Regions from separate parts of the Homo sapiens genome. Here region 2 is linked to region 1. The links come from fine-mapping of genetic effects on gene expression. Tissue or cell type: whole blood. Region 1 holds a variant in brackets; the other region holds the start of a gene. All regions are shown on one strand. Distances are from middle to middle.

Evidence for each region. PIP is the estimated chance that this variant, and not a neighbour inherited with it, causes the effect.
Region 2: LINC01011 starts here. The variant in region 1 is fine-mapped to the expression of LINC01011 in whole blood (TOPMed, PIP above 0.99).

What each region holds. Positions count from the first base shown.
Region 1 is chr6:3,051,794-3,062,339 of GRCh38, reverse strand. It overlaps LOC124901242 (a long non-coding RNA gene), which reads right to left and starts at 7,252. Exons shown (of 2, transcript XR_007059409.1): 1 at 6,316-7,252; 2 at 4,983-5,841. RefSeq lists an enhancer at 7,013-7,805 and a silencer at 8,418-8,647. The variant C/T (reference allele first, on the strand shown) is at 6,316.
Region 2 is chr6:2,983,115-2,993,660 of GRCh38, reverse strand. It overlaps LINC01011 (long intergenic non-protein coding RNA 1011), which reads right to left and starts at 5,694. Exons shown (of 3, transcript NR_026856.1): 1 at 5,630-5,694; 2 at 3,928-4,133; 3 at 2,490-3,792. It overlaps NQO2-AS1 (NQO2 antisense RNA 1), which reads left to right. Exons shown (of 2, transcript NR_186367.1): 2 at 3,650-4,325. RefSeq lists enhancers at 2,515-3,322, 3,600-3,759, 3,323-4,132, 4,133-4,942, 4,943-5,752 and a silencer at 4,330-4,749.

The DNA of each region.
Region 1 (10,546 bases):
CACAATCCCTGGCAACCACAGATTTATTTTCTGTCTCTGGATTTTCCTATTTCGGGGATTTCATGCAAAATGAACCATACAATATGTGGTCTTTCGTGGCTGCTTCTTTTACTTAGCATAATGTTTTAAAGGTTCATTCATGATGGTTCAAGGTAGCATTTGTCAGGCTTCATTTCTTTTTATGGCTGAATAATATAATAATATGTATACATATATCTATTTTGTTTACCCTTTCAATTGACAGACATTTGGGTTTTTTCCATCTTTGGCTATTATGAATAATGCTGCTATCAACATTCATGTATAAATATATTTATGAATAATGCTGCTATCAACATTCATGTATAAATATATGTATAGAGGTATGTTTTCTTGAGCTTATCATGGATATATACCAGTGGGTAGAATTGGTGAGTCATATGGTATAACTCTATATTTAACTTTTTGAAGAACTGCCAAACTTGTTTTTGCAAAGCTACTGTGCAATTTTACATTCCTGCCAGCAATATACAGGCATACCTCAGAGATATTGTGGGGTAGGTTCCAAACCACCACAATAAAGCGAATACCACAATAATGCAAATCACGCAACGCTTTAGCAGCCCTATGCATATAATAGTTATATACTATACTGCAGTGTATTAAGTGCACGTTATGTCTCAAAAATGTAGATACCTTAATCATAACACATGTTATCACTAAAAAAAATGATGATAGTCATCTGAGCCTTCAGTGAGTCATAATCTTTTTGCTGGTGGAGTGGCCCGCCTCAATGTTAATGAACCTGACTGATCAAGGTGGTGGTTGCTGAAGGCTGGAGTGGCTGTGGCAATTTCTTTTTTTTTTTTTTGAGACAGAGTCTCGCTCTGTCGCCCAGGCCTGAGTGCAGTGGCGCTATCTCAGCTCACTGCAAGCTCCGCCTCCCGGATTCACGCCATTCTCCTGCCTCAGCCTCCCCAGTAGCTGGGACTACAGGCGCCCACCACTGCGCCCAGCTAATTTTTTGTATTTTTAGTAGAGATGGGGTTTCACCGTGTTAGCCAGGATGGTCTCGATCTCCTGACCTCGTGATCCACCCACCTCGGCCTCCCAAAGTGCTGGGATTACAGGCGTGAGCCACCGTGCCTGGCCGGCAATTTTTTAAAATCAGTTGGCTTCATCAATTGATTCTTCCTTTTATGAAAGATTTCTCTGTAGCATGTAACGCCATTTGATAGCATTTTATGCACAGTAGAACTTATTTCAAATTGGTGTCAATCTTCTCAAACCCTGCCACTGCTTTATCAACTTACTTTGTTATATCCTAAATCTTTTGGTTTTTGTTTGTTTGTTTTGAGACAGAGTCTCGTTCTGTCAGCCAGGCTGGAGTGCAGTGGCACAATCTCAGTTCACCGCAACCTCCGTCTCCCAGGCTCAAGCAATTCTCCTGCCTCAGCTTCCCGAGTAGCTGGGATTACAGGCATGTGCTACCACACCTGGCTAATTTTTGTATTTTTAGTAGAGACAGGGTTTCACCATGTTGGCCAGGCTGGTCTCGAACTCCTGACCTCAGGTTATCCACCGGCCTCGGCCTCCCAAAGTGCTGGGATTACAGGTGTGAGCCACCACACCCGGCCTGTTGTCATTTCAACAGTGGTTACAGCATCTTCCCCAGAGGCAGATTCCATCTCCAGAAACCACTTCCTTTGCTCATCCATAAGAAGTGACTCCTCATCTGTGAAAGTTTTATCATGAGGTTGCAGCAATTCTGTGACATCTTCAGGTTCCATTTCTAATTCTAGTTCTGTTCTATTTCCACCATATCTGCAGCTACTTCCTTCCCTAAAGTCTTCCATGAGCGTTGGAATTAATTTCTTCCAAACTCCTGTTAATGTTGACATTTTGACCTCCTTCCACGCATCACAAATGTTCTTAATGGCATCAAGAGTGGTGAGAACCTTTCTAGCAATTTATCAATTTATTTTGCCCAGATCCACCAGAGGAATCACTATATCTGGCAGCTAATAGCCTTTTAAAAATTATTTTGTGTTTATTATTATCATTATCATTATTATTATTATTATTATTATTATTATTATTATTATTATTTTGAGATGGAGTCACACTCTTGTCACCCAGGCAGGAGTGCAGTGGTGCGATCTCGGCTCACTGCAACGTCCGCCTCCCGGGTTCAAGCGATTCTCGTTACTCAGCCTCCCAAGTAGCTGGGATGACAGGCGCCCGCAACCACGCCCAGCTGATATTTGTATTTTTAGTAGAGACGGGGTTTCCCCATGTTGGCCAGGCTGGTCTCGAACTCCCTACCTTGGTTAATCCACCCGCCTTGGCCTCCCAAAGTGCTGGAATTACAGGCGTGAGCCACCACGCCCGGCCGGAAGTGTATTTTTTAAATAATAAGACTTGAAAGTTGAATTTACTCCTTGATCCATGGGCTGTAGAATGGACGTTGTGTTAGCAGGCATGAAAACAGCATTCATCTCCTTGTACGTCTCCGTCAGAGCTCTTGGGTAATCAGGTGCATTGTCAATGAGCAGTAATATTTTGAAAGGAATCTTTTTTTCTGAACAGTGAGTCTCAACAGTGGACTTAAAATACTCAGTAACCTATGCTGTAAAGAGACATGCTGTCACCCAGGCTTGGTGGTTCCACTGAGAGCACAGGCAGAGTAGGTTTAGCATAATTCTTAAAGCCCTAAGATTTTCAGTATGGTAAATGAGCATTGGTCTCAACTTAAAGTCACCAACTGCATTAGCCCCTAACAACAGAGTCAGCCTATCCTTTGAAGCTTTGAAGCCAGGCATTGACTTTTCCTCTCTAGCTATGGAAGTCCTAGGTGGCATCTTCTTCCAATAGAAGGCTGTTTTATCTACATTGAAAATCTGTTTAGTGTAGCCACCTTCATCAATGATCTTAGCTAGATCTTCTGGATAACTTGGTGCAGCTTCTCCATCAGCACTTCCTGCTTCACATTGCACTTTTATGTTACAGAGATGCCTTCTTCCCTTAAACCTCATGAACCAAGAACCAACCTCTGCTAGCTTCCAACTTTTCTTCTGCAATTTCCTCACTTCTCTCATCCTGCATAGGATTGAAGAGAGTTGGGGCCTTGCTCTGGATTCGGCTTTGGCTGAAGGGAGTTCTGTGGCTGGTTTGATCTATACAGACCACTTAAATTTTCCCCATGTCAGCAATAAGGCTGTTTTACTTATCATTCATGTGTTCACTAAAGCAGCACTTTTAATTTCCTTCAATAACTTTTTCTTTCATTCACAACTTGGCAGCTTGTTTGGTGCAAGAGGTCTTGCTTATGGCTTATCTTGGCTTTTGACATGTCTTCCTAACTTTAATCGTCTTTCACTTTTGATTTAAAGTGACAGGCATGCAACTCTTCCTTTTATTTGAAGATTTAAAGGTCATTATAGGGTTGGTTCTTCACTACCCTAATTTAAATATTGTTGTGTTGTCTCAAAGAATTTGGGAGAGGGAGAGAGATGGGAAATGACTGCTCACTGGAGCAGTCAGAACACACACAACATTTATCCATTAAGTTTGTCAACGTATATGGGTTTAGTTTGTGGCACCCCAAAACAATTATAGTAGTAACATCCCGGATCACTGTAACAGATGTAATAATAATGACAATGTCTGAAATATTGTGAGAATTACCAAAACGTAACACAGAGACAAGAAATGAGCACATGCTGTTGGAAAAATGGTCCCAAAATCCTGCTTGACACAGTTGCCACAGACCTTCAATATGTGAAAAACACAATATCTTTGAATTGCGCTAAAGCAAAATGCAATGAAATGAGGGATGTCTGTATAAGACAAAGAGAAAATCATAAAAGCAGCAAGACATGTACAAGGGATCCTCAATAAACTCATATGTCTATGGCCAAGGGTGCCAAGCAGTATTCAATTCAGGGAAGAATAGTCTTCAACAGATGATATGGAAGGACTGTATTTCCACATGCAAGAGTAAAGTTAGACCCTGCTTCACACCGTATTAAAAAAACCCTCACAAGCAATGAACTAAATATAAAAACTAAAATCATAAAATTCTTAGGAGAAAACATAGAAGCAAATCTTCATAATTTTGGGTTTGGTAATAGGCTCTTAGATATGATAGCAAAATCTCTTGCAAAACAACAATGAAAAAACAAAAAGAAACAAAATCCACTGGGAGTAATCTTCATTAAAATCTGAAATTTTGTGTATCAAAGGATATTATCAAGAAAGACAACCTACAGAGTGAAGGAACATTTTTGCAAATCATATAGCTGATAAATTCAGAATATAAAGAACTTCTACAACTCAACAATGAATAGGCAAACAATCCAATTAAAGTATAAGCAAAGGACTTGGATAGACATTTCTCCAAGGAAGGTATACAAATGGCCAGTAAATGCATGAAAAGACGATTCAAGTCATTAGTCATTAGGGAAATGCAAATCAAAAACCCAATGAAATACCACATCACATCTGCTAGGATGGCTATAATTTAGGGGAAAAAAAGCAACATAATAAATGCTGGTGAAAATATGGAGAAATTGGAACCCTCATACATTGTTGGTGGGAATGTAAAATTGCACAGACACTGCGAAATACATTTTGGCTATTCCTCAAAAAGCTAAACATAGGATGACGATAGAATTGTTATAACAATTCCATTCCTCGGTAGATACCCACAGTATTAAGCGCAGGGAGTCACACAGATACATATATGCCAAGAATCATTGGTGCATTATTCACAAATCTCAAACGACCCGTGCATTTTTAATATTCGGCCACAAAGAAGTGAAATTCTGACTCATATTACAACATTGATGAAACTTGCCAACAAGGTTTTCAAGGGAAATAAGCTGACTGTAAAGGCCCATTTTGTAGGATTCCACTTATACGAAGTACATGGGACAGACAAATCATAGAGACAGAAAGTAGATTAGAGGCTACCGGTAATGAAAGGAGGGGGGAATGGGAAGTTATTTTACAATGAGTACCGTGTTTTTATTTGTTCTGTTGAAAAATGTTTTGGAAATAAATAGCAGGAAAGGTTGCACAACATAGTCGATGTAATTAATGCTTCTGAACTGTCCACTTAAAAATGGATAAAACAGCATATCTTATGTTGTACATATTTGACTACACAAAAACAAAGTTTAAAAGTACAAAAAACTCTGTTATTAAGAGTCAGTTTCCCAAAGGGATGGAGATGCTGGTAACAGAAGGGAAAGAAATCTCATCAAATAAAAAAAAGCAATGTCCTCTTCAGGAGGTGGCTCAGCTAGTTTAGCTTTACCTTAGCACCATGATGGTTCATTTTATTCAGAAATAGAAACATGGGGCGTTGGGGAGAAGAGGAGATGTGTACCTGCCTCACCTGCCTCCCTGCCCAGAATGCCGACTCCGACTCTTGCTTTCCACTAAGGCTGGGGATTAAATGAAAATTGAGAATCTGGAAACCCCCAGAGATGATGTTTGTCGTTGGAGCTGATTTTATCTCGTCTTAGTAGCGTGACCTCCTCTTCAAACTCAGGATGCAATTATGGTCAATCTCATCAGTGTGCAGTAATTGCTCAGCCCCAATACCAGATTAGCAGGAAGTTCTGTTATTTTCCTTTTGAGGACGGGCTCCTACTGAACTGTCCTAGAATCTACCACCATTCAACTCACACCACTCAAAAGACCCAGGGAACGGCCAGGCGCGGTGGCTCCCGCCTGTAATCCCAGCACTTTGGGAGGCCGAGGCGGGCGGCTTCGAGGATCAGGAGGATCACGAGGCGGATCACGAGGTCAGGAGATCGAGACCATCCTGGCTAACACGGTGAAACTCCGTCTCTACTAAAAAAAAAAAAAAAAAATTTAGCCCGGCGTGGTGGCGGGCGCCTGTAGTCCCAGCTACTCGGGAGGCTGAGGCAGGAGAATGGCGTGAACCCGGGAGGCGGAGCTTGCAGTGAGCCGAGATCGCGCCACTGCACTCCAGCCTGGGCCAGAGCGAGACTCTGTCTCAAAAACAAAAACAAAAACAAAAACAACAAAAAAAGACCCAGGGAACTAGGCCAGTCCAGCTCCCAACCCCAAGCAGGGAGCAACTTGCTCAGTCCACGTTGTGATAGCTCCTCGCTGCCACAAGGTGGTGATGTTGCATCACACACGCGCATGATGGGCGCGCAGGCGCCAATGCTCCCAGGACCTGCTGTTCCATTCCTAAATGAAAGTTGTTCCCAGGATCTGGACTCACAAGACAAGGCAGCCTGTTCCCTGCTGGGGAGCTCAGGGGCAAGAGGGCATCTCGGAGGGAGGGCACATTCTCAC[C/T]TCTGAAGACAAGGAGAACATCATCAGCACATAGACCAATCCCAGCAGTGCACCTTAGGATGGGGGCCACTGTGAGTTACAGCAAAATGAACGAATGAATGAACCAATAAATGTCTGAGAGGGAAAGTCCCAACGACCCTCAGGAGGTGCAATCAAGAGTTGCAGTTATTTTCGTTAGGAACGTTCTAAACCACAGGGGAAACCTTCCTTCCTTCTGCTCTATCGTTGGAGTGGGACATCAGTGTTTCTGGTCTCTATTTCCGGGACACCAGAAATCAAGGTATAGAGTTTGGAGAGGGGTCTTGGGGAGGTCACAGTGGCAGGTGACTGCCAAATGAGGGGGCAGAAGCCAGCAAACACTAGAAAAAAAGACAATCGGCCTAAACTGTTCACCAGCACCGCCCTCCCAACCCCCAACTGGCTCTGTTTCCAAGACTTTCCATTTTCTAGCCATTTCCTTGTCCTTAAACCACTTTCCTTTAATCGAACTTTTTCTTTGGAGCCATGCACCCAAGGACTATGGCCTGTCCTTGGGAATTATAGGGAATTCCTGTTGTATGTGAAATTTTCCACCGATTTAAGAATCTTTGGAAAGCTTTACTACAATATCCTGGTCCATTGTCAGTTTTGATTTTTTCTGGAACTCCCATGACAGCAAAACAAGACAATAAACGTTTTTTAACATGGGAAGTACTTTCTCCTGTCTGGCAAGCTGCCCATATGAAATGTGAATAAGTATCAACTGTTACATGAACATATGACAATCTTCCAAATGAAGGGACATGCGTGACATCCATTTGCCATAATGCATTAGGACACAGACCTCTGGGATTAACTCCTGCCTCTTGAGTGGGCAGGTGTAAGACTTAACACTGGGGAGAAACCTTGGACAATACCTGGCTTTCCTAGGCAGAGGACCCTGCGGCCTTCCACAGTGTTTGCGTCCCTGGGTACTTGAGATGAGGGAGTGGTGATGACTCTTAAGGAGCATGCTGCCTTCAAGCATTTGTTTAACAAAGCACATCTTGCACCGCCCTTAATCCATTTAACCCTGAGTTTGACACGCACATGTTTCAGAGAGCACGGGGTTGGGGGTAACGTCATAGATTAACAGAATCTCAAGGCAGAAGAATTTTTCTTAGTACAGCACAAAATGGAGTCTCCTATGTCTACTTCTTTCTACACAGACACAGTAACAATCTGATCTATCTTGCTTTTCCCCCCACCGCCCTCCCAACCCCCAACTGGCTCTGTTTCCAAGACTTTCCATTTTCTAGCCATTTCCTTGTCCTTAAACCACTTTCCTTTAATCGAACTTTTTCCTTGGAGCCATGCATATCCGGTTTCCCCCAATGGTGGCATCTCACAAAGGACGGTCCAGTATCCCAACGGCGTGTTGCGTTCTGCGGGACGCAGATTTCCTTCACAGGCACCCCCCGGGTTGCGTTTTTATAGCCACACACCCGCCGCCTCCCTAACTCCTGGGCACAGCTAATGAGTCCTGCATTTCTCTCCTCTGTCCTTTGGAGAAATTGATCCCCCGTCTGTGATCTTTGGGATTGGTTTCGCTCACCAGCGTAACTCCCCGGGAGATCCAGCAGGCTGATGGGTGTGGAGTACCAGTGGCTCATTCTTTTTGTCGCACTACAGACTCTCATTCTGTAACCTGGATATCTGCCAGGGATGGGGCGGGGGTTGGCATAGAGCAGGAGCGTCCCTCCTCCCCGCACAGAGTCCCAGCACTCCTTTTTTTTTTTTTTTTTTTTTTGAGATGGAGTCTCACTGCAGTTCAGGCTGAAGTGTAATGGTACGATCTCGGCTTACTGCAACCTCCGCCTCCTGGGTTCAAGCAATTCTCCTGCCTCGGCCTCCCGAGTAGCTGGGACTACAGGCGCTCCCCACTACGCCCAGACTAATTTTGGTATTTTTAGTAGAGACAGGGTTTCACTGTGTTGGCCAGGCTGGTCTCGAACTCCTGACCTCAGGTGATCCGCCCGTCGCGGCCTCCGGGATTACAGGCGTGAGCCACCGCGCCCGGCCTCCGCGCTCCATTCCTGTGGGTCCAGTTTCCACCTCCTCGAAACCCAGCAGGGTCCTCCCCAGCCCTGAAGGGCTAGACGAGCCCGGAGGCGGACTGCGGTGGCGTGGCGTGGCGTGGGCGGAGCTTGGAGCCGGAGGCGGGGTGTGGGCGGGGCTGAGAGGCGGGGTGCGGCCTCGGCGTGGGCGGGGCCTGTGTGTGGCGGGCGCGCTGCGGAAACAAGCCTGCAGTCCCGCGGGCCTGGTCCCAGGCTGCTTGGGTTGTGCGGGTACCTGGTCCCCCAGGGCGGAGCCGCAGCGCTCCTGGTCTGCGGGACGTGGCCCTGTAGCTGGAACCTGGCGCAACTCAGAGAGCTGTCCTCGCAGAGGCGCTGGTCCCAGACCTGCGGCTCCTACCCCGGCCGGCGCTGGCTGGAGGGTGAGTGATCTCCTACCGGAGACCGAGGGACTTGGGAGAGGCAGTTCCCTCCTGCAGCCTCCCCGGAGGTTCTAGGTCACCATTCACTGTCCCTGCAATGAGACACCTTCCGGTACCACTTATCTAAAATAGCAAACATTCCCCTGCTGTTTGATCCGCTAGAGTACTTTATTTGCTTATCACTATTAGGTACCATAGTTTTTGGTACTTACCGCCACCTGGAATTTTGTGGCGCTTTCTTTGCCGGCTTGTTTATTGTTTCTTGCCCGCCCCCCGTACCGTCCCCGAAGAGTACAAAGTTCCATTCGTATCTGTCTTGTGGCCCCAGCACCTGCCCAGAGATGAGCCCTCCTGCCAGGAGGGGTCCAGCTGAACAAACGTGTGTATGGGTTAGGAAATGTGTCCCACTCATTGCTAGTAATGGAGTCAACGCCAGCGGCTTTCAAAGAACTCGTGAAGAGCCTGGAGCTTCTCAGAAACCATCACCCGCTCTGGAACCTCCATGACTCTGGGCTGCATACTCACCTTCCAATCTTAGTTTCGCCTCCACCTTGACCTTTAACCCTCCTGGGGGCCCGTCTGCAATAGTGCTTCAGATTCTTCCCCTATCTTTAACCTGAGAGCACCTGCCTCACCTTAGACCTGCTCTCCGCTGTCCTCAGGGTCCCTCCACGGTGTGCGCCATGGGCAGCCTCCTTCCCTCTAGGTTCCCCATAGATTGAGAGCGACCTGAGAAGGGGGCCAAGCCGTGGGGAGAAGCAAGTCCTGAGCTGCCTGGCCAAGCCACGCCCGTGGGGTCAGGAGAAGGGCCCTCCTCCTCGGCCTCACCGACCAGACTCCTGCTTCCCTGGGCTTTCCCAGGCCTCCCTATGCGCTGTGACAGCCAAAGTTTGCTTTCTACAAAGTCACCTCCAGGCAGTGACTGTCTACCAGGGCACTGCAGAGCCTCCCAGCTAATGATGAGGTCATTCACTCTCCTCTCTTTTTCCTTTAAGATCCCTTAAATTTCCTTTAAGATAAATCCCATTTTGGCTCACCCTGTAAGTTACAGCCCCACTTCTCACTGCCAAGTGTGGGTGTCACTGCTGGCTCAGGGAGCATGGATCCTGTAAACTTGCCTCATCGGGAGGCTTTAAGGAGTGACCTCCAGGGACTAGACTAGTAGCTTGTTCTTCACAATCACTGCCCTCCCAAGAACATCCAGGATTTCAGCGTCAGTGCTAAGACAACCATGTCTCTCCCTGACACATGCTCGCTGCTGAGAATTCTAGGAAAAGCAGAGGGCTGTGCAGGTGCCCCTGCCCCTAGGCTAGGAGAGCTGGCAAATGCCTGGAGACCCAAAGGCCTCATCCTCAGGGCGGCCAACTCTTCTGTTTTAGTGATATACAGACTATCTTTTATTGTGATTTATAGTGCAACTTACCGGTTCAAACAATACTACCTGTATTCATAAACTTTCTTTTTCCTTTCCTTCCTCACTGCCCAGCTTTAGGTTCATTCTTGTAAGTGTTGCTGGTGTCAGAATAGGAACCTCCCTGCGCTTTGAAGGGATGAATGTGACCTCTCCCACATTCTCCGGTGCTGTGATGTACCTTAAACACAGCAAGGTACTTGGACACAAAGCCTGTGCCTGGAGCCCTTATGCACTTTCAGACAGACAGTGCATGGCCCTCGCTACAGACTCAGTGCCATTGTAGATGTTTCTGCATGGAAAATACATAAACACAAATATCTGCAGTTGCCAATCCACCACCATCTTGCAGCCCCAAGAGAGCC
Region 2 (10,546 bases), 69 kb after region 1:
TCTTATCTATACAGCTAGAGAGAATAACAAATTTTACTTTTATCAGTTAAATAAATTTTGTCTTAATATGACTTATTATTTATATTTATCTTTTTACATTTCAAAAACACTATGTTATTCAATTGAATGACTTATAATTTTTGAGTTACCTGGTCACTGTATTATCATTGTCAGTTATTATATTTCACATGCATTACTTAGTAAAGACAAATCTTGGGGCCGGGCACGGTGGCTCACACCTATAATCCCAGCACTTTGGGAGGCCAAGGCGGGCGGATCACGAGGTCAGGAGATCGAGACCATCTTGGCTAACATGGTGAAACCCTGTCTCTACTAAAAATACAAAAAATTAGCCGGGCGTGGTTGCAGGTGCCTGTAGTCCCAGCTATTCGGGAGGCTGAGGCAGGAGAATGGCCTGAACCCGGGAGGCGGAGCTTGCAGTGAGCAGAGATCGTGCCACTGCACTCCAGCCTGGACGACAGAGCGAGACTCCGTCCCAAAAAAAAAAAAAAAAAAGAAAAATCTTTACCAAGGCCTGATTTCTTGAGCATATTGATATAATATATAGTTAAACATGTTATTGATAGACAAGATGTTTCTCAAGAATATTATGTTTGTGCAGAAATTACCACATAAAATTAAATCCTTCTTTTCGGCTGACTATTTTTTAAAAACTTAGGCTGATATTAATGAAAAAACTGAAACCCAAATGAAGCCTGGAGTTAATAGTAATGTACAACGTTGGGACCTTAGTTTCCACAAATGTATCTGTTTTACTTTAAGATCTTCAAGATGCGGAGCACCCCTACAACGATTAGGAGAGACACAGGCTAGAAATAGTTTATTACTTACAGATCCTGGGGCACATGGCATACTTGGAGGCCACCTTCATGGAAATCAGGGAGTGCAGGCAGAGAGACCAAGACAGCAACCCATGGGCCAACACCTTTATTGGGTCCAGGGTGTTATCCAAACAGGTTTCCCATGGGGAGTTTTATTCGGTGGGTTTACAGCAAGCAGGCATGAGTTCCAGGAGGTGGCACAGTGACTGAGTGGTGGGCCCTGTGGCGCATCTGCACATTCTAGGTGGGGTGTGAGGGTCAGTGTGGCCAATAGGTTCTAGCTGTGCCATAGAGAAGTGGTCAACAGGAGATAGTTGTATGAGGCAGATATCTGGATCCACCACATAACAGAACTGGGAGAAGGTGGAGAACCAGCAACTTTGTCCGGGGTGACTGAGCCTTGATTTTGGTGTGGGAAAGTCCAATGTATATTCAAAATGGATGTGGAGGCAACCCAACATAAGAATTCACAACACTACCATGGTGATATGTTACCATTAGGGGAAACTGTGTTAGGGGAATATGGTAACTACCTGTATTATCTGACTTTCCTGTGAATCTAAAGTTATTCCAAAGTAAAAAAAAAAATTGTATTAAAAAAACTATTATAAATAAAAGTTTAATGACACTAAAATCCCTGCTTTAAAATCTTATGAGCTAGCAGAGTACATTTCTAACTTATATGTTATATGTGCTGTTAACTATGAGAAGATCTCCCCCAAAATCATGTTTTTCTAATTTCTTATAAAAATACTAATACAAAACTGCTTATTGACTGCATCTCATCAGCTGTTATTCTTTTAGACTGATTGAATTATTCTAAGTTGCTTTTCCAGATTCATCTAATAAAAAGAAAGATTGGATCTGACATGAACAGTGTATAAATTAGTACAAGAAAGTCTCTTTTCTGAATCAAATCTTGGTCCTACAGTTTAGGATTTTATTTATTTAATTTACTTTGAGACAGGGTCTCATTCTGTTGCCCAGGCTGGAGAGCAGCGGCGCTATATCTCAGCTCACTGCAACCTCCGCGTCCCGGGTTCAAGCGATTCTGGTGCCTCAGCTTCCTGAGTAGCTGGGACTACAGGTGAGCGCCATCACACCCGGCTAAATTTTTTATTGTATTTTTAGTAGAGACAGGGTTTCATCATGTTGGCCAGGCTGGTCTCCAACTCCTGGCCTCAAGTGATCCACCAGCCTCAGCCTCCCAAAGTGCTGGGATTACAGGAGTGAGCCACCATGCCCAGCCTAGTTTAGGATTAAAAAATTGTTCTATGCCTTAATGCCAAAGATAGAACATTGTAATAATTATTTTATTACAATTTATGTAATTATTTTAATTATTTTATGTCTTTAAGAAACAATTTGCCTCTGTCATATCTCACATTAAAATGGAAAAAAAAATTCCTTATGTTTGTGTTCTAACAAATTAAAAGTTGTGTATCATTGTGAATTCAAAAGAGAAGCAGGTAACACATGAACTGGGATCATGGAAACCAAACCAGAATAAAGCAAGCCCAGCACAATACTATCTTGGAGGCTGACCAGTTAGAAGGTCTTAAACATAATATATTTTAAACAAACAGTTAAAGGAAAAAGATTAACCTAGTGTTGTAACCGAGCGAGTTACAGAGAAACGCCACACTCTGAGACGAATTCAGGAGTCCTTTATTAGCCGGCAGCCGAGAGACAGCTAGCGCTCGAAATTCTCTTGGCCCCGAAGAAGGAGCTAGATTTTCTTTTATACTTTGGTTTAGACAGGGGAGAGGGGGAGTCTAGTTGAAACAATCTTACAGAAGTAAAGTAGGCAAAAAGTTAAAAGGATAAACGGTTACAGGAAAGTAAACAGTTCCAGGTGCAGAGGCTTTAAGTCTATCCTAAGGTGATGGACGCCGGGCTTTGGGCGTTATCAACCGGACACAAACGCAGGGGCTCTGGGTGCTATTAACCGGGCGAATTCCTGGGAACTGCGGATATAGCTTGCCACAGTATCTTATCAGTTAATTGCATTCTTGATGTGCTGGGAGTCAGCTTGCACAAGTTAAGTCCTTGAGGAAGGGGGTGGGTAAGGGGCTGCGAGTGAAGGAGTCACGATGGAGTCCGTCTGGCTCTCTTAGCTAAGGAAGAGTCACTTCAGGTTAAAACAAGGTAGGGTATCCCACTAGAAGCCTCACATCATTAAGCTTCAGTCAGGCAGGCATTCCTTTAAAAAGTGTTTACTGAGTACCTTCTCTATGTCAGTCACTATTTGGGGCATAAAGGACTCACTTCTCCGCAAAAACAAACTCTGATCCCCCGGTCTCCTCGAGTCACGGAGCTTGCAAGCTAGTGGGAAAAATTGGGAACTGGTGCAAAGAATGACTGCAAAATAAATTGTGGTCATCTTGAAGACATATGCGTGCATGTGTGCGTGAAGCTTTTTAAATAGAGAAGCTTTAAGTGGGGGAAATTTGCTGACATTACACGATTTCTTCTCTTAGTGCAAATGTATACAGCCTGTCTTTTTGAAGGGGTCACGGTAGATAATTATGCTCTGTTAACCTCATTTGTTGTCAGGGAAAATTAAAACTAAGGGTAGTGTCAGTAGGAATCTTGGTTCCTGCCAGTTTTGTTGTTTGTTAGCATATCTTCCTTTACAGGTAGTATGGTTTCATTTTCGTAAAAATGCTGCATAAACGTGGCTGGGTATGTTACTCATTGCAGTGCCTGCTGATTTCGCTGGACCCCACCCTGCTTTTGCTGCCCAATGCGATAGCATATGGGACAGAGCTAAATTCCTACTCAGCTGTAACTCTGCTTATTTTCAGGAAAAAGAATGCCTGTGTTTCGAAGTTCCTTCTTAGGACGAAACCAGCTGAAGCTGGCGAAATCCAAGATGGCGCCTCTGAAGAGCCTCTGGCTTTATCATCATCCTGTTCTCATGCTAAACAACATGTCGCCATGACAACGACTGGAAGAGACCAAGAAGGGACAGAAAAAAAGGGGTTTCTTGATTCCGGGAAAAATCTCCGTTCTTTCCCAAGGAAAGCACGAATATTCCCCCCCGTGCTCTTAATGCCCAGCCCCTTCATTAAAGACACCCTACCTCTGAAACTTCCCAGCTCTCACAAGCTAAGTTGATTTCAGATCTTCCAATTCCATAGCCATTGAATACAGCCTGCACTGCTTGACACACTCCCTTTCGGTTTCGTGCATTGGCCTCACCACGCAACAGGAAACAACCCTTTTTGGGATAACCGGGACTCCCGGTAACATTTCCATATATACATATCTTAATGTATGCAAGGGCGTCTGGGGGAGAAAGAAGCAGCACATTTCATTCTTTGCTTTCTATAATACTGGATTGCTTGAGTTTGTGACACATGTTAACATTTGCAACATTTTTAAACTAAATTGTATGTATTATAGAACAGTCCTCTGCGCTGAGCTTGGACTTAAAGTGGAAAGGCTTACATTTGCAGAATTAAAAAAAGCATCGAAACATTCTGTGGCAGGAAGTCCTGCGAGCCTCCTCGCCCCAGCCCGGTTTCCCGCGGGCCCCAGCCTCATCCCCCAAGGCCCCACCCTGAGAGCCCCCAGGTCCCAGCCGCGTCCTCCTGGACCCCTCCCAGGCGTGGCGAGCCGGGTCGCGGGAGCGCTCCGCCACCAGGGGACAGTGCGGCGCCGACCGTGGGCTGCTGGCTCGGCCGAGGGCACCCAGGCGCCCTCCGCTGCAGCGGGCTGGTTGCAGAGGGGCGGGCTCTCGCCAGGCAGCAGGCGCTCCGGGCGCAGCTGGGAGGAAGGAACGCCCCCGGGAGTGGGCGGCGGCCGAGGGACCCTGCAACCGTCCTCCCTGGAGGAGGCCCCCGCAGCTCCCGCAGCCCCCCTCATCCCGGACGGGCCGGGGATTGGGACTGGCCTGGGGTCTCCTACTCTCCTACTCCGCGCAGGAAGTAGCCCCTTGGCAGGACCGGCGGTGCCTGCTGCTTTCAGGAGCCCCGAGCCGCTTTTGTCTGGGTGCAGCTCAGCTCACATCCCCGATGCAAGTCTTTCCCGGCTCGTCTCCCCTTCTTCCCGGAGTCCATGCCTTGCTGTCGGTGACTCATCCCACACTGTGCCCTGCGACTCACCCTGTCGCTTTCTCTGTTCATCCGGGAGCGCGGCGCCATCTCCCTCCAGCCCCGCCTCCCCTACAGTGCTCCGTGCTGAGGTCGCACGTTCTCTCCTCCCTCCAGCTCCCTGGCTCTTGGCCCTTCCCAGGCCACCAGGCGACAGCAGCCTCCGCCTTCATTTCCCTTGGTCATTTCAGGCGCATGCTTGGAGGATTTCAGGATCTGACTCAGCTTCCCCGCCATGCATCCCTCCACCAGCATCCAGTCACACCTCTGCAGCCTTCAGTGTCCTGGAAAGGACTGACCAATCTGACCCATTAGAACCTACCCAGACCAATTTGAAGGCCACTGCCCCTCAACCGTGGCCACCCACTCCTGCCCCACCTGGAGCCCCAAACTGCTCAGTTCCTTCTCTAAAACTCTGCCCTCTTTTGTTTGTTGTGAATAACTGTCTTCCCTGGTTCTTTCCACACCTCTCTGGCCTCTCCTTGTCTTTTTCTGGTTCTTTTTTTCTCTATTCTCCCTTATGCACTGGCCTTGCTGGAGGTCCCTGCTCTCCCTGCAAAACCTCACCACACCCTTGACTTCAGCTATATCCATTTCACCTCACGTTGACATCTGGTGCCTAGACCTCTCTCCCGAGCCTTCCACACCATGCCAAAAATGAAATTCATTTTCTCCTCTAAATTTGCTCACCTTCTTGTTTTCCCAATCTTATTTATTGTCACAGCCATTCCCCTGCTGGTCCAAGTCAGTAGTCTGAGAGTCATGCTAGACTCCTCCTTCCTTATCTACCCATCCACCAATCCCCAAGCCCTGTCTATCCTCCTTTTTTTTTTTTTTTTTTTCCAGTCAGAGTCTTGCTGTGTTGCCCAGGCTAGAGTGCAATGGCACGATCTCGGCTCACTGCAATCTTTGCCTCCCGGGTTCAAGTGATTCTCCTGCCTCAGCCTCCTGAGTAGCTGGGATTACAGGCGCATGTCACCACGCCCAGCTAATTTTTGTATTTTTAGCAGAGATGAGGTTTTGCCATGTTGGCCAGGCTGGTCTTGAACTGCTGACCTCGTGATCCGCCTGCCTCTGCCTCCCAAAGTGCTGGGATTACTGGCATGAGCCACTGTGCCTGGTCATCTATCCTCCTTTTTAAATAGCTCTGCCATGTGTGCCTGTCTCCCCTGACAGCTCACCCTCATCCTATTTGTCCACATTGCTGCAGAGTAGTCTCTTCCATACACCAGGAGTTCCCAACCCCCGGGCCACAGACCTGACTGGTCTGTAGCCTGTTAGGAACCAGGACACACAGCAAGAGGTGAGCCACCAGTGGGTGAGCTAGTGAAGCTTTATCTGTATGTGCAGCTGCTCCCCATTGCTTGCATTACCACCAGAGCTCTGCCTCCTATCAGATCAGGCAGCATTAGATTCTTATAGGAGCACAAACCCTACTGTGAACTGCACACATAAGGGATCTAGGATGTGCGCTCCTTATGAGAATCTAATGCCTGATAATCTGCCGTTGTCTTCATCACCCCCACATGGGGCCAGATAGTTGCAGGAAAACAAGCTCAGGGCTCCCACTGAAAATAAAGTGCACAAGAAGTGTCATGTGCTTGAATCATCCCGAAACCATCCTCTGCTGTCCAAGGAAAAATAGTTTTCCACAAAACCCCTCCCTGGTGCCAAAAAGGTTGGGATGGTTGCCATACATAACTCTGATGATGAGACCACGAAGCTCAGAATCCTCCAGAGGCTCTCCACTGCCTGTAAGATGAAATAAAATTTATGGGTGTGACTTATCCATAAGGGCCCAGTCTAAACTGCCTCATATTTAATTATATAGTAAGCTATTTGTTTCCTCAAACGTATATATTTTGGCCCATTTCCCAGTCTCCTAGGTTGGAATATGCTCTGTGTGTCACCTGGCCAGCTCATGCTCTTTCTCATTCTCAGCTCAAGTGTTAGGGACTCTATGACACCTTTCTTGATTCTCCCAGTCAGACATATTGTTGCTACTTTTTCTTAACACTTATCCTTTTATCCTTGGCACCACTAAAGCACATATCACATCAGATTTCACTTGTTTGCACATCTGTCTGGCATCTTGAGCCCAGGGACCGTGTCGCCTGTCTTCATGTCCCCAGGCCCTAGTGTAGCTCCCAGCCTATAGTGAGTGCAGAATAAAAGTTTGTAGAATGAGGCCAGGCGCGGTGGCTCATGCCGGTAATCCCAGCACTTTGTGAGGCCAAGGTGGGCAGATCACGAGGTCAGGAGTTTGAGACCAGCCTGACCAACATGGTGAAACCTCGTCTCTACTAAAAATACAAAAAATAGCCGGGTGTGGTGGCACGCGCCTGTAATCCCAGCTACTCAGGAGGCTGAGGCAGGAGAATCGCTCAAACCTAGGAGGTGGAAGTTGCAGTAAGCTGAGATCGCGCCACTGCACTCCAGCCTGTGCAACAGAGTGAGACTCTGTCTCAAAAAAAAAAAAAAAAGTTTGTAGAATGAATGAAACAATTAGTTACACCACAGTTAGTGAGTCATCGATACTTCATCAAGGCTGGGTATTTCGTATAATAAAGTTATTAAAGCTGATAAGCAAAGATCAAGTTACCCAAAGAACAGCACTGCCGGTGATCTAAAGGTCTTTGCCCTCAGGTTGCTTAGGTAACGGAAAGGATAAGAACTCCCCACTGTTCTGGGGCGGATCTTACATTGCTTTTGGAAGAGGCAATAGACTTGGGAAAGAAAGGAGTGTGTGTATTGAGGTATTGAGGGAATGGTTAGGTGGGAGGAGTCAGAGAGGAAGGCTGCAGTAGCCCCTCAGTCGACCCTGGCTGCTTTGTCCTTGGGGCTCAGTGAACAGATTATCTGTTTTCATGGTAAGGGGTTGGGATTCTCTACTTCAGGTGGGCACCCAGAAAGTGAATTGCTCGCCTTTGTTTAAAAATAATGAAAATGGGCCGGGCGCGGTGGCTCATGCCTGTAATCCCAGCACTTTGGGAGGCTGAGGCAGGTGGATCACCTGAGATCAGGAGTTTGATACCAGCCTGGCCAACATGGTGAGACCCCGTCTCTATTAAAAATACAAAAATTAGCCAGGCGTGGTGATGGGTGCCTGTAATCGCAGCTACTCAGGAGGCTGACACAGGAGAATCACTTGAACCCAGGAGGCGGAGGTTGCAGTGAGCTAAGATCTTGCCACTGCACTCCAGCCTGGGCTACAGAGCAAGACTCTGTCTCAAAAACAAACAAACAAAAAACCCAAAAATAATGAAAATGTCTGCCCACCCTTCACTAAGTAAACATAATGAAAATGCACATCTTGTGCCCTCTTTTGCTTTTATTCTATAATACCCAAGCCTACGTTTTGGAACTAAACCCCACGCCCTTTGTGTGAAAGCCATGCGGATCTTCAAAGGGATCTCTTTAGGGGGAACATTAAGTTTGCCCAAGGAGGCACCCTTCTGGGTCTCCAAGGCCACCTGGCTGCAATGCAGTCCAATTCCAGCCTCTGTCTCCCAGAGCACCCCCTGTGCCAGGGCGGCAGGATCCCAGGGGTGTGTCTACCATGGCACCAGACACACACTGGCTGAATGTAGCCTCGTCATCGCTGAGCCCTGTTCACAACCATTTTTGTTTTCGTGCTTTTTCAGTTTTAGGAGCTTTGTTGTATCCCTGGTCAAAACTACTCTGGTGAAGCTCACTAGGTGTCTCTAACTCGGCACCTGAGGAGCAGTTTTCCTGAGCTCCTCATGCAAATGGACGCCACTCCCTTCGGCAAAGTCCTGGGAGCTCAAGGGAGGCTGCCCAGTCAGCTGCGGCCCATCCCAACGCATTGGGGACCTGCCCACCTGGCTCTTAATTTGCATTTTGAAATGTCACCCAAGTGATTCCAGACCAGATAAGAAGATGAGCTTCTCTTGTTATGGAAAAAGGAAGAGAGACAGAGAGAGAAACCTCTGTTTTGTTATTTAGCTATTCCTCAAATTCTTATGACCAGTGATGATATTTTTTAAAAAATCTCCAGAACAACACAATTATTTAAATTTAACTCAGATTTTATTTTAATTTATTAATTTATTTATTTTTGAGATGGAGTCTCGCTGTGACACCCAGGCTGGAATGCAATGGCGCAATCTTGGCTCACTGCAACCTCAGCTTCCCGGGTTAAAGCGATTCTCCTGCCTCAGCCTCCCAACTAGCTGGGATTACAGGTGCCTGCCACCACGCCTGGCTAATTAATTAATTATTATTATTTATTGAAACGGAGTCTCACTCTGTCACCTGGGCTGGAGTGCAGTGGTGTGATCTTGGCTCACTACAACCTCTACCTCCCAGGTTCAAACAATTCTCCTGCCTCAGCCTCCTGAGTAGCTGGGATTACAGGCACACACCACCATGCCTGGCTAACTTTTTTTTGTATTTTTAGTGGAGACAGGGTTTCATCATGTTGACCAGGCTGGTCTCAAACTCCTGACTGCAAGTGATCCGCCTGCCTCGGCCTCCAAAAATGCTGGGATTACAGGCATGAGCCACCGCACCTGGCCTTAACTCAGATTTTAAATATGAGAGTATCAACTTGTAGGGGTGGAAGAGGTGTGATGCCTCTCCTTACACATTGTATGGGTCACAGCCAAGGCTCCTATCTCAAAAGACACAGTCCCACCTCCAGCTCCAGTTCGTCTTCTCATTCATCCCAGATAAGTTTCTTGAAAGAGTATTCTAAGACAACTCTCTCCATGTGTCTCCAGGCCTGGATCTGCCTCAGTTTTTGCTCCTCCCATCTATCGTCCCTTGGTAACTAACGACTTGGGAATGAGAAATGCCCTTTTCAATTCTGACTCTCCTCTTCCTCTCAGCACCAGCAGCGGATGCTGACCTGGTTCTCTGTTTCTTCTGTCTTCTCCTTCTCTGTCCTCTTTGCCATGTGCTCCTTTTCCAGCTGTCTTTTAAAATGTTTGTTGCTGGATCAAGGAGTTTCTCCCCCAGCTTCATTTAGCATCGATAGCTCTTACCTTTGTCGTAATTTCTACCTGTCCTCTGGACATCTTCACCTAAATGTTCACCAGCACTCTAAGCCCCTTTTGACTCAAACTGATTATCTGACCCCTAAATCTGATCCTCCTCCCCCTATATACTCTTTCATGTACCCAGTTCTCTGAGTTAGAATAAATACAAACCATCTGGAACTGTAACTCTGCCCTTCTCTCTCAAAATCCACTTGTTCAGTATAGTCTATGATTTCTGCCCCCTAATTAGCTCTCTGCCTCACAGACATCACCATTGCCAGTGCCTGGCTAAGGCCCAAATTACCTGTGTTCTGGGCTCCTGAGGCCAATTTCTAAACAGCTCCCTGCTGTCACTGTCTTCTGCACCCTGCCCATCCTAAGGCCTGATGCTGGAGTTGGGAAGGAAGAAAAGAAGGAAGGTGTGGTGTGGTGGCACATGCCAGTAGTCCCTGCTCTGGAGGCTAAGGCAGGAGGATTGCTTGAGCCCAGGAGGTAGAGGCTGCCGCAAGTTATAATCACACCACTGCACTCCAGCCTGGACTACAGAGTGAGACGGGGGTTGGGGCGGGGGAGGGAGGAGGAAAAGAAGAAAGGATGGAAAAAAGGG